2 separate regions of the Homo sapiens genome follow, and region 2 is reported to be linked to region 1. The links are microRNA targets in miRTarBase. Many come from high-throughput screens and were not tested one by one. Region 1 holds a microRNA gene; the other region holds the end of a gene's coding sequence.

What was found. Region 1 holds the annotated microRNA hsa-miR-216a-3p (UCACAGUGGUCUCUGGGAUUAU, at 1,665-1,686, shown strand). A microRNA usually pairs through its seed, bases 2 to 8, with sites in the 3' UTR of a target mRNA and lowers its output. Matches are read on the target gene's strand: a 7mer-m8 pairs with bases 2 to 8, a 7mer-A1 pairs with bases 2 to 7 and ends in A, and an 8mer does both.
Region 2: miRTarBase lists BEX3 as a target of hsa-miR-216a-3p. Seed matches in the 3' UTR shown: 7mer-A1 at 607-613.

Annotation. Positions count from the first base shown.
Region 1 is chr2:55,985,594-55,990,666 of GRCh38, reverse strand. MIR216A (microRNA 216a) reads left to right here and starts at 1,608; the gene lies at 1,608-1,717. All of the region lies in intron 2 of MIR217HG (MIR217 host gene), which reads left to right. All of the region lies in intron 3 of LOC105374690 (a long non-coding RNA gene), which reads right to left.
Region 2 is chrX:103,377,248-103,382,320 of GRCh38, forward strand. BEX3 (brain expressed X-linked 3) reads left to right here. Exons shown (of 3, transcript NM_206917.3): 3 at 263-917. The coding sequence starts at 275. The coding sequence ends at 580. Among named protein-coding and RNA genes, the nearest start is that of BEX3, 3.2 kb to the left of the region's middle.

The sequences.
Region 1 (5,073 bases):
GAGAGAAAGGAAAATCAAATATAAGATTAAGAGAAAAGAAAAAACTGAACGTCATTCATGTTGCTCTGAGAAGCCCTTGTTTTTTGATTAAGATAAAATCTGCTTATTTTTAATCCTGAGCAATTTGACTCCAGAAAATAAACTTAGAACAATATTTAAAAAGTTAAATCCTAATGATGAGACATTCTTATTTTACAAAAGTAGCTTTGTACTTAGGAGTCCATATGAGGCACAAGATTATATTCAATTGTTCTTTCTCAATTGTTTTGTAACTTTATATTTACCTGACTTTTAAAACGAAAAGCCACTTTTCTAACTCTGTAAATTACCACTCTCTTAATTGTGTCAAGTCTCAATTATTAAAGGACAAGTTATGAGCTGAAATCCATAATTCTTTGCTTCAACAAACATTTGATTTAGTTTGACAAAATTTTTTTGAGCACTTATTAAACATCAGATGCTAAACTGAGAATAGTATAGTTGAGGATATAGAGATGAATAAGCACAGTGCCAACACTTGGAAGTTTGCAGTCAATGAAGGAGAAAGCATGTGAGTGAGAAAACACCATTGTGTATTACAGGTGCCAAAAAAGGGAGACTGGGGAGAGAAGGCAGTGTGTGATAGTTTTCAATGTGTGACTGTCACACAAGGGGGTGTGTGTGTGTGTGTGTGTGTGTGTGTGTGTGAAAGAGAGAGAGAGGAGGGAGAGAGAAAGAAGAAATAATTCCAAGTATGGGCAAACACAGCTCATTGGATTCTCAGAACTTGTTAGAGCTGGAGTCTACAATGTAGAGGAAGAAATGGTCTAGTATGAAGTGAAGCTGGAGAAAGGCAGTGGAAAATCTCCACCGAAGTGCAAATCGCAGCCACCAAAACCAGACCTACTGAATCAAAATATAGAGGTAGGTCCTGGGGATCTACATTTGTAACAAGTTTCCTATGTGCTTCTTACACTCACTCAAGTTGAGATGCCATCCACGGCAGATGGTGGGGAAACTCTGAGGGCGTTTCCTCTTCCTTCCGTTCTTAATCATTATTCTTACCATTGATTAGCCCCACCCAGTGGACTGAGGGGCTTAGATCATGGCTCAGTCTCACTTAGCCATGACAGTGATGTGGGCAAGAGGGGAGGACATACCACCATCTATGAAAGGTAATAGCCACCGCTATTGACACATCTGGCCATTTGGTGAGTATACGGTCATTACTTTTTCAACGTAATTGCTGGTTTTCTTGTCTGAGGACAAATTTTAGAGTGTTTGGCTTTGATGTTTCCAAGTTCTCTATAAAGCTTGTTTAAAAAATCATTTTTAGTGATTGGTTTTACATTCACCTGTACTCCTACTTGGCTGTTTCTTACTATATATGGATTAGAGTAAATCCTTTCTAAATGCAAAGATTATACTTTTATGACATTACATGCAATATAGCATATGCCAGAAATCTGTGAATTCAGCAAGAGGAGTAGCTTGATAATGTCGCCTCAAGAAAAATGCAGAGGGGTACATCAGGGCTTCTGCTGGTGCACTCGATGTATGAAGATGTGCTTCCACCTGAGGCAGCCACGTGCCTCTGCTCATACACTTTCTCTTGCAGGTCTAACACGGATGGCTGTGAGTTGGCTTAATCTCAGCTGGCAACTGTGAGATGTTCATACAATCCCTCACAGTGGTCTCTGGGATTATGCTAAACAGAGCAATTTCCTAGCCCTCACGAATCAAAAGACTTGCATGGCAACCAAAATTAAACACCAAATTTCTATTTCATGACCAAGACGGGGGGAAAAGTTTCGATGGTTACTGTTTCATGCTCAACCTCTTTTAATCTTAGTAAAGTCTTTTTCTAAAGTGCTGTTGTGCTGGAAAGGAAACCAGCCTTGGGAATTAATTTGCCTTTATTGGATTCGCTTGCTACTTACTGCGCTCCTTCAGTGCTACTTGGTTTTTTAAAAAATTGCAGCCAAGGGAGTTTGGGTGTTAGAAGCTGAACCCAAAATATTTTCCCTCTGAAAGCTCCTCCCACTCTCTTTGTGGGTGCTACTCCATCAAATTCCAAACAGTCTAAAAGAGGACGATCTCCTGCCAGGCCCTCCTCAAACTTCAACTCCCCAGATTATCACATTTAATCGCCCTTCCTCATTCCTTCTGTAAGTGTTTCACATTCATCTGCCCTAAATAATATTGAAATTTAGAATCAACTATGGCTTAGGCTGAGGTTGCCATGAAACTTTTGAGCTGTACCCAACTCTAATTCTCGGTGATCCCTGGAAACAGATAATCCTTTTCCATAAAAAGAATAAGAACAAATGTAATTCTTCAGGGTGAAAAATCAAGGCCAGTTATCTTCCTCATTCACCCAGTAACACAAAACAAATCAGATGAACCAAATTTATAATTAAATGTGGGATAACTTTAACAACAAAAATTATTAAAATGCTATTTCCAAGGTCTTGACTGGCACATATCCCCTCAGGTATCCTCAGAAAGAGAAGTCTGTATATCTCAGTTTGATTAAATTACATTTCTGGGCCGGGCGCAGTGGCTTACGCCTGTAATCCCAGCACTTTGGGAGGCTGAGGCAGGCGGATCATGAGGTCAGGGGATCGAGACCATCGTGGCTAACACGGTGAAACCCTGTCTCTACTAAAAATACAAAAAATTAGCTGGGCATGGTGGCGGGCACCTGTAGTCCCAGCTACTCAGGAGGCTAAGGCAGGAGAATGGAGTGAACTCAGGAGGCGGAGGTTGCAGTGAGCCAAGATTGCGCCACTGCACTCCAACCTGGGCGACAGAGCGAGACTCTGTCTCAAAAAAAAAAAAAAAAAAAATTACATTTCTGTATCAAGGCACATTAGTATGACCTATTAGATTTCCTTGCCAGAAATTGATGTTGAGCAGTAGGAGGTAAGTTTGAGAACTAGTTATTCACATACTAATAGCACAAATACTGAACCATAAGCCAGGAAATAACTTACCTCTGGTAAGGAGAGGGCTTCGTATTAATTTTCAGGACTCATTAAGGGCTCTTTTAAGCTGCTGCTGAAACTTTCTAAATGTTGTCTGTATCCTCCTGCTAGTTGAAATAATCATTTTTTCAAACATGAAAAAATTCCCAATTCCAATTTTTGGTGACCATTTTTCAAAAAGGGAAGAAGATAAATGTAATTAAACAGAGCAGGAAATATTTTTTGAAGAGCTGAGTACATATGATGCATCAGGAACCATGCTTGTTGCCTTGCTTGTGTGTACACTCAGTGCACTCTTGCAGTCTCCAGATGTTCCCAGTGCTCTCTGCACATAGAGGCACAGGGAGCTTTTGAAAATGTCAATATCAAGGGCTGTGCCACTGATAAATCAGAATGCCTGGGATGGGATCTGGGCATCTCTGTTTAAGAGGCACCCAGGGGATTGTAATGTGCAGCCAAAGGTGAGAATCACTGTATTTGAGCTCAACAGGGAAGCTGTGGTTGGAGTGCAGTGAGAAAAACTGGAAGGAGAGGATTAGAGGGTATAGCTAGGTAGACTATGGTAAGAATTTGGGGTTTTAGTGTGAGGGACTCCACAAGCAATTGGAGAGTTTTAATTAAAGAAGTGGCATGACTTATTTACCAGTAACACAGTTTAATAGACTTTTCTTAGAATCTAACCATGTATAAACTTTAAAGAAAAATAGTTATTGTGGACTGCAAATAACTTCCTTGTCATTTAACTTTAGGAATGTAAGACCACAGGATAGGCAGATTCCAACCAAGAGGAAAGCTAGTATGAAAGAACAAAAAGGAAATTAGCTCAGAAATCAGGAGCCCCAACTCCTTTAGGCAACAGCTTGAGTCACTGTTTCAAGAAAAAAAGAAAATCACTTATCCTTTCAACACATAGATTCTGACTTTTCTTTTAAAGCTTAATAATTTTAGAATTACATCCTGGTAGTAATTAGCATCAAAATAAGTGAAGGATTTGGCATCTCTGTCAATGAGACATTCAAAATATCATTTGTTAGACTGGGTTTATGCCAGTCTTCAGTAAAAATAGAGTACAACAGGATTCCCACCCTTTTAGTAAAGAGGCTCTGTCTTGCTGATGACCGAAGACCTTGTTAGGGCTCCTGGGAACTAAGTCCTCAGCATTCCTAGCTCATCATCTCATTCACCAGCACCTAGAGCGTGGCACTTATTATCCCTTTTCCACCTGTACCATGAAGACTATGAAAGTCAAGGTGCAAGCAGCCGGCCTCTTAATCAGAGCAAACAAGCAGAACCTACTGCCAGTCCGCAGGACTAGACCTTAGATGTCTGCTGAATCTGTGATCCTGAGCTTTTGTTGAAAACCTGAATTATATTTCTGCCTGGTAAAGATGGCCCCAGGCTCCAAATGTTTGTCTTCTGTGGAAATCCAGATTAGAGTTTTCTGTGGCCCTCCCCCATGCTGTACCACTAAATGATGAACACTTATTGAATGCCCAGAAAGTCCCACTTTTCCCTCCTTTGGCAGCCTGCCCTCAGCCCAACCAAAACAATAGCAAAACAAAATAAACAAAAATGGCTTCTGTTTTTAATGATCACTGCAAGATTCACCATGAAACTCCTATAGATGAGTCTCTATAACCGTCTTATCCAAGCCAGAGCTGTCTATCATTAAGGTAGAGCAGGACAGAAAGAGCTTTTCTGGTTACAGACTTAATTCTGTATCAGATAAGTCCCCTCAGGATCCGTAACCCTGCAAGGTACCCAATTTGGGCTCGTCACCTGGCATGGACATACCAGGAGGATCTCTCTGGAAAAACTCTTGAAATACCCTGGAAAGGGTGATCCTCTGCTTTTTAGTTATATTATACACACCTCAATTACTGGGAAATACTCTTCAGCATATACAATGCTCTAAAGATTGCTCAAAACTGTGACCTGAATTTTAGGATTCTGTTTTATAGTGGCCAATCTCAGTTGTATTGCTTACTATCATTTTGCATTGTCTACAGGCATGTTAGTTATATTTCCAAACTCAAGTAGTGATTAGTTGGCCAGAGAAAAGCAGAGTTTCTGTTCTGTGATTTCTCTGCGGTGAAAGGAAATGAAA
Region 2 (5,073 bases), not on the chromosome of region 1:
GGAAACGAAAAATGGTGGGTTTGGGGGAAGGGAGGTAAGGGGAGAAAGCTGGAGGGAGGGGCTTTAATTGGAGGCCCCGTAGAGGACGCGCGGAACTTCTAAGGTGGGAAAAAACGAAATTAAAAAATCCTTTGATATCAGGGCTCTGAATCCTGCTGGTCAGAGCACCAAGCATTCAGTCTCTCTCCTTGCCTTTGTCTTACTTGTGTTCAAAGAAAAACAACCAGAAAAAAAAAATCTCATCATGGCAAATATTCACCAGGAAAACGAAGAGATGGAGCAGCCTATGCAGAATGGAGAGGAAGACCGCCCTTTGGGAGGAGGTGAAGGCCACCAGCCTGCAGGAAATCGACGGGGACAGGCTCGCCGACTTGCCCCTAATTTTCGATGGGCCATACCCAATAGGCAGATCAATGATGGGATGGGTGGAGATGGAGATGATATGGAAATATTCATGGAGGAGATGAGAGAAATCAGAAGAAAACTTAGGGAGCTGCAGTTGAGGAATTGTCTGCGTATCCTTATGGGGGAGCTCTCTAATCACCATGACCATCATGATGAATTTTGCCTTATGCCTTGACTCCTGCCATTTATCATGAGATTAATACTGTGATTCCCGCTGTTTTCTTTTTCCTTGCATTTTCCTAATATGCCTTTACTGATCCGTTTGCTGTGAACCCTATGTTATTTCCATGTGTCAAGTGGGTCTTGTGTTGCCAGCTTCTATTTGAAGATTGCCTTTGCACTCAGTGTAAGTTTCTGTCAGCAGTAGTTTCACCCATTTGCATGGAAAAATTTAAAGCTAATAAAGCAATTTAAAAAGCAATCTATACATTTATTGTCTCATTAAAAATGTATACTTACATATAACAGATGAACTAAAAAAAAATCTGAGATTAAATACACTAGAGTGTTAATTGGTGAACATTTCTGTGTGTTAACTAATCCCAGCACTTTGGGAGGCTAAGGTAGGCAGATCACGAGGTCAGGAGATCGAGACCATCCTGGCTAACACGGTGAAACCCTGTCTCTACTGAAAAAAAAATACAAAAAATTAGCCGGTCGTGATGGCACACGCCTGTAATCCCAGCTACTCGGGAGGCTGAGGCAGGAGAATGGCTTGAACCCGGAAGGCGGAGGTTGCAGTGAGCCGAGATCACGCCACTGCACTCCAGCCTGGACGACAGAGCCAGACAGTCTCAAAAAAAAAAAAGTAATATGTGACATTTTTTTCCTTTTATTATCTGGAGTTTGAGAAGCAATGAAAATTATTTTTCAATGAGATTATGAATGTAGTGCAGATACGTAACAATACTGGCTCAACAAATTTGAAGAGTAAACTCTAACTATCCTTCAGTCTTAACTGGAATAATAAACCTTCCCTTTATTACAGATGCATTCCTTTAAAGAGCCCGTTTTCTGCTCTGTGAAATGGGGAACAATGCTTGTCTTACAGGGCTGCTGAGTGGAACTGATGAAATGTGGAACTGTGTTGGGCTGGCTTCTGTCCCCAACTCCCCAACATTTAACAGGACCGGGACCCCCATCAGGTACTTAGGACTGGAGGAATTATCACTCATGTTTACAAGTCCAGACAGTGAAAATAGGTGGGTTCCCCCATATCATTCTTGTTATTTGCAATCCTCCTGCTCCCCTGATTACTGCCTTCTTGATTGGCCACACTTTCCCTTCTGCTGGATCCTATTTCTGTTGCTGTTGATGAGGTGCTAGGGTCTTCAAGGTAACAAGCCCCACTGATTTCTCTGGAGTCTCTGGTGAGCCAAATCCCCCTTTGACCTCTATAGAATTGTGGAGAATGTCTTTATAACTTGAGAGTTATATTTATCCTGGTGAGTACAACTCTTGTGGTTCTTGGGATTACATTGGTTCTTAGAAAAATAGCCCTTTCTGGTTTTCTTTCATAACTCCTTCAAATAACTCAGACAAGAGTGCACTGCGGCCTAACTGAGAAAATGCATCTGAGTGTGCCCTGAATTGCATTACTGCAAACCTCCACAATACAAACAGGCTGAAGGCTTTATTTGTGCCTGTGTTTCTATCCTTGATACGGATTTTCTCAAAGGAGACTCTTGGCAGGCCTGCCCACCCAGTTTAACAGACTTACCTAGACATGTAAATTACATTGGGAGAACAAATTTTCTTTAAAGCGGAAACACACTCCCTTCTTGTCCATACCTGAACCATGAAACTACTCTGTAAGTTCTTAAAAACTATATTAAGTATTTGGCATTGTTATTTCTTTGTGAGTGTGTGCCCTTTTCTCCAGACAGTTTCTGGTATAGTGCCCGACATAGTAGATATTAAATTATTAATTATTTTGATTGATTAATTAACTAAGAGTTAGAAATCCAGCTCAAAACTGTCCCTAACTCACTATCCTTAACTAAGGGGCCAAAGGCAAGTAACTAGTTATGTGGAAAGCATTATATTATTTCCAAAGGAACATAGCAAGGAAAGTTTCTAACTCAAATTCTGTAAACTTTTTTTTAAACCTTGTATATGTTAGTGTTTAGGGAAACATAGACGCCTTACGTGCATCATAATTACCTAGGGAAAGTGTTAAAAATGTTGACAGTTGGGTGCTCGTCCCACCCCCAACCAGCCACTGTGACCACCTGAATCACCAGAATCAGGAATTACTATTTTGACAGTTTCCCAAGTGATTCTCATGCATCTGAGTTTTGACAACATAGGCATAGAGAAACACTGACAGTAATTACACCATTTTACAAATTTCGTGATCCAAATTACCTTACTTACTTGATTCCACAATGCATATACGTTTCCAAAGTACAGCATTCCAAAATTAGACATTAGGCCATCAATGTATGTTTATACTTAAACCAGTACTGTTTTATCTTCTTTTCAAATATCCTATTAAACTAATGCTTTATCATGAATTTATTATTAATAATAAATGTAATAATTATGAAATTATTAAATAAATTATGCATTATCATTTCTGTGCCAACCTGTGCCCTTTCACAACAATGATTTTGTTTTAGTCTCCCTGGAGCTCAGTTTCTAGCACAGTGCCTAATATAGTAGATGTTTCATAACATAATAATTCATTTACTAATTAATTATTAAATTATTTCAGGATTGTAGTTTATCTAAAACAATATATAACAACATTTTTGAGCCTGTGGAGTTTTTTTTAATGCTTTCGTATTTTGAAATTTCTATAAAGAACATTTTAAAATGTTAGTACTTCTTATAATTATTTATATAATGTCATCATACATATTTGGATCATGAATATAGGGAGAATATAAACAAAACCGTAATCCAGTCATCCAAAGATACCATTTGTAAGTTTTTAAATCTTCATCTTATATTTTATCATGACAAAGCTAGGCTTAGAGCCTCTTATGAGGAACACTGCCTCTTTCAAAGCCCCTGCCAAAGAAATATGTTTAGCTTGCCATGTTTGTTACTATTTTTCTAATCTCTCCTCTCCACTTATCAAAGCTGATTGACTCATTTGATCAGCTTTCAGTTAGCTCCTGATTTTCAAAACTCAAGCCATCACATTTCAGAAGTCCACTCACAGTGATCTAATGTCCAATTTTGAAATGTATTTTTTTCTATCTTGAAAAACTACAACAATGTTTGTCTTATAAAGTTCTCATCATGTCTGCATTAAAAAAAATCAATTCCTTTTCCTTTAAATCCTTAGTGATTACTTTCTTTTTTTATTTTATTTTATTTATTTTATTTTATTATTATTATACTTTAAGTTTTAGGGTACATGTGCACAATGTGCAGGTTAGTTACATATGTATACATGTGCCATGCTGGTGCGCTGCACCCACTAACTCGTCATCTAGCATTAGGTATATCTCCCAATGCTATCCCTCCCCTCTCCCCCCACCCCACAACAGTCCCCAGAGTGTGATGTTCCCCTTCCTGTGTCCATGTGTTCTCATTGTTCAGTTCCCACCTATGAGTGAGAATATGCGGTGTTTGGTTTTTTGTTCTTGCGATAGTTTACTGAGAATGATGATTTCCAATTTCATCCATGTCCCTACAAAGGACATGAACTTATCATTTTTGATGGCTGCATGGTATTCCATGGTGTATATGTGCCACATTTTCTTAATCCAGTCTATCATTGTTGGACATTTGGGTTGGTTCCAAGTCTTTGCTATTGTGAATAGTGCCGCAATAAACATACGTGTGCATGTGTCTTTATAGCTGCATGATTTATAGTCCTTTGGGTATATACCCAGTAATGGGATGGCTGGGTCAAATGGTATTTCTAGTTCTAGATCCCTGAGTGAACAGGCAACCTACAAAATGGGAGAAAATTTTCACAACCTACTCATCTGACAAAGGGCTAATATCCAGAATCTACAATGAACTCAAACAAATTTACAAGAAAAAAACAAACAACCCCATCAAAAAGTGGGCGAAGGACATGAACAGGCACTTCTCAAAAGAAGACATTTATGCAGCCAAACAACACATGAAAAAATGCTCACCATCACTGGCCATCAGAGAAATGCAAATCAAAACCACAATGAGATACCATCTCACACCAGTTAGAATGGCGATCATTAAAAAGTCAGGAAACAACAGGTGCTGGAGAGGATGTGGAGAAATAGGAACACTTTTACACTGTTGGTGGGACTGAAACTAGTTCAATTTTGAAATGTATTTTGGCAAATTTAGAAATATAAAGTAAATATATTTATTTACTAGAACAGAACTATTTATTTACGAAACTTAAAAATTGTCTTAGAAGTAGAAAAAGTTTTGAGTTTTATAAATGAAATGGACAAAATTCCACGTCTACTCTGTCTCCTTTCCTGACATCACATGTATTATGTAGTAAATATACTGATTTTGTTTGGAAAAGTCCAGTTTTTAAATTTCAGAAAGATAGCATGTTATGTAGTCAATATTTCATGTGTAACCAGCTGGAATGCTTTCTAAGTGATATAACTATACATAACCCAATAAATAAGGCATCCCTATAAACTTGAAAATCTAATTTTTAAAAAATTTTTGCCAGACATTTGAAAAGTCACAATTAGCATGTTTAGAAAT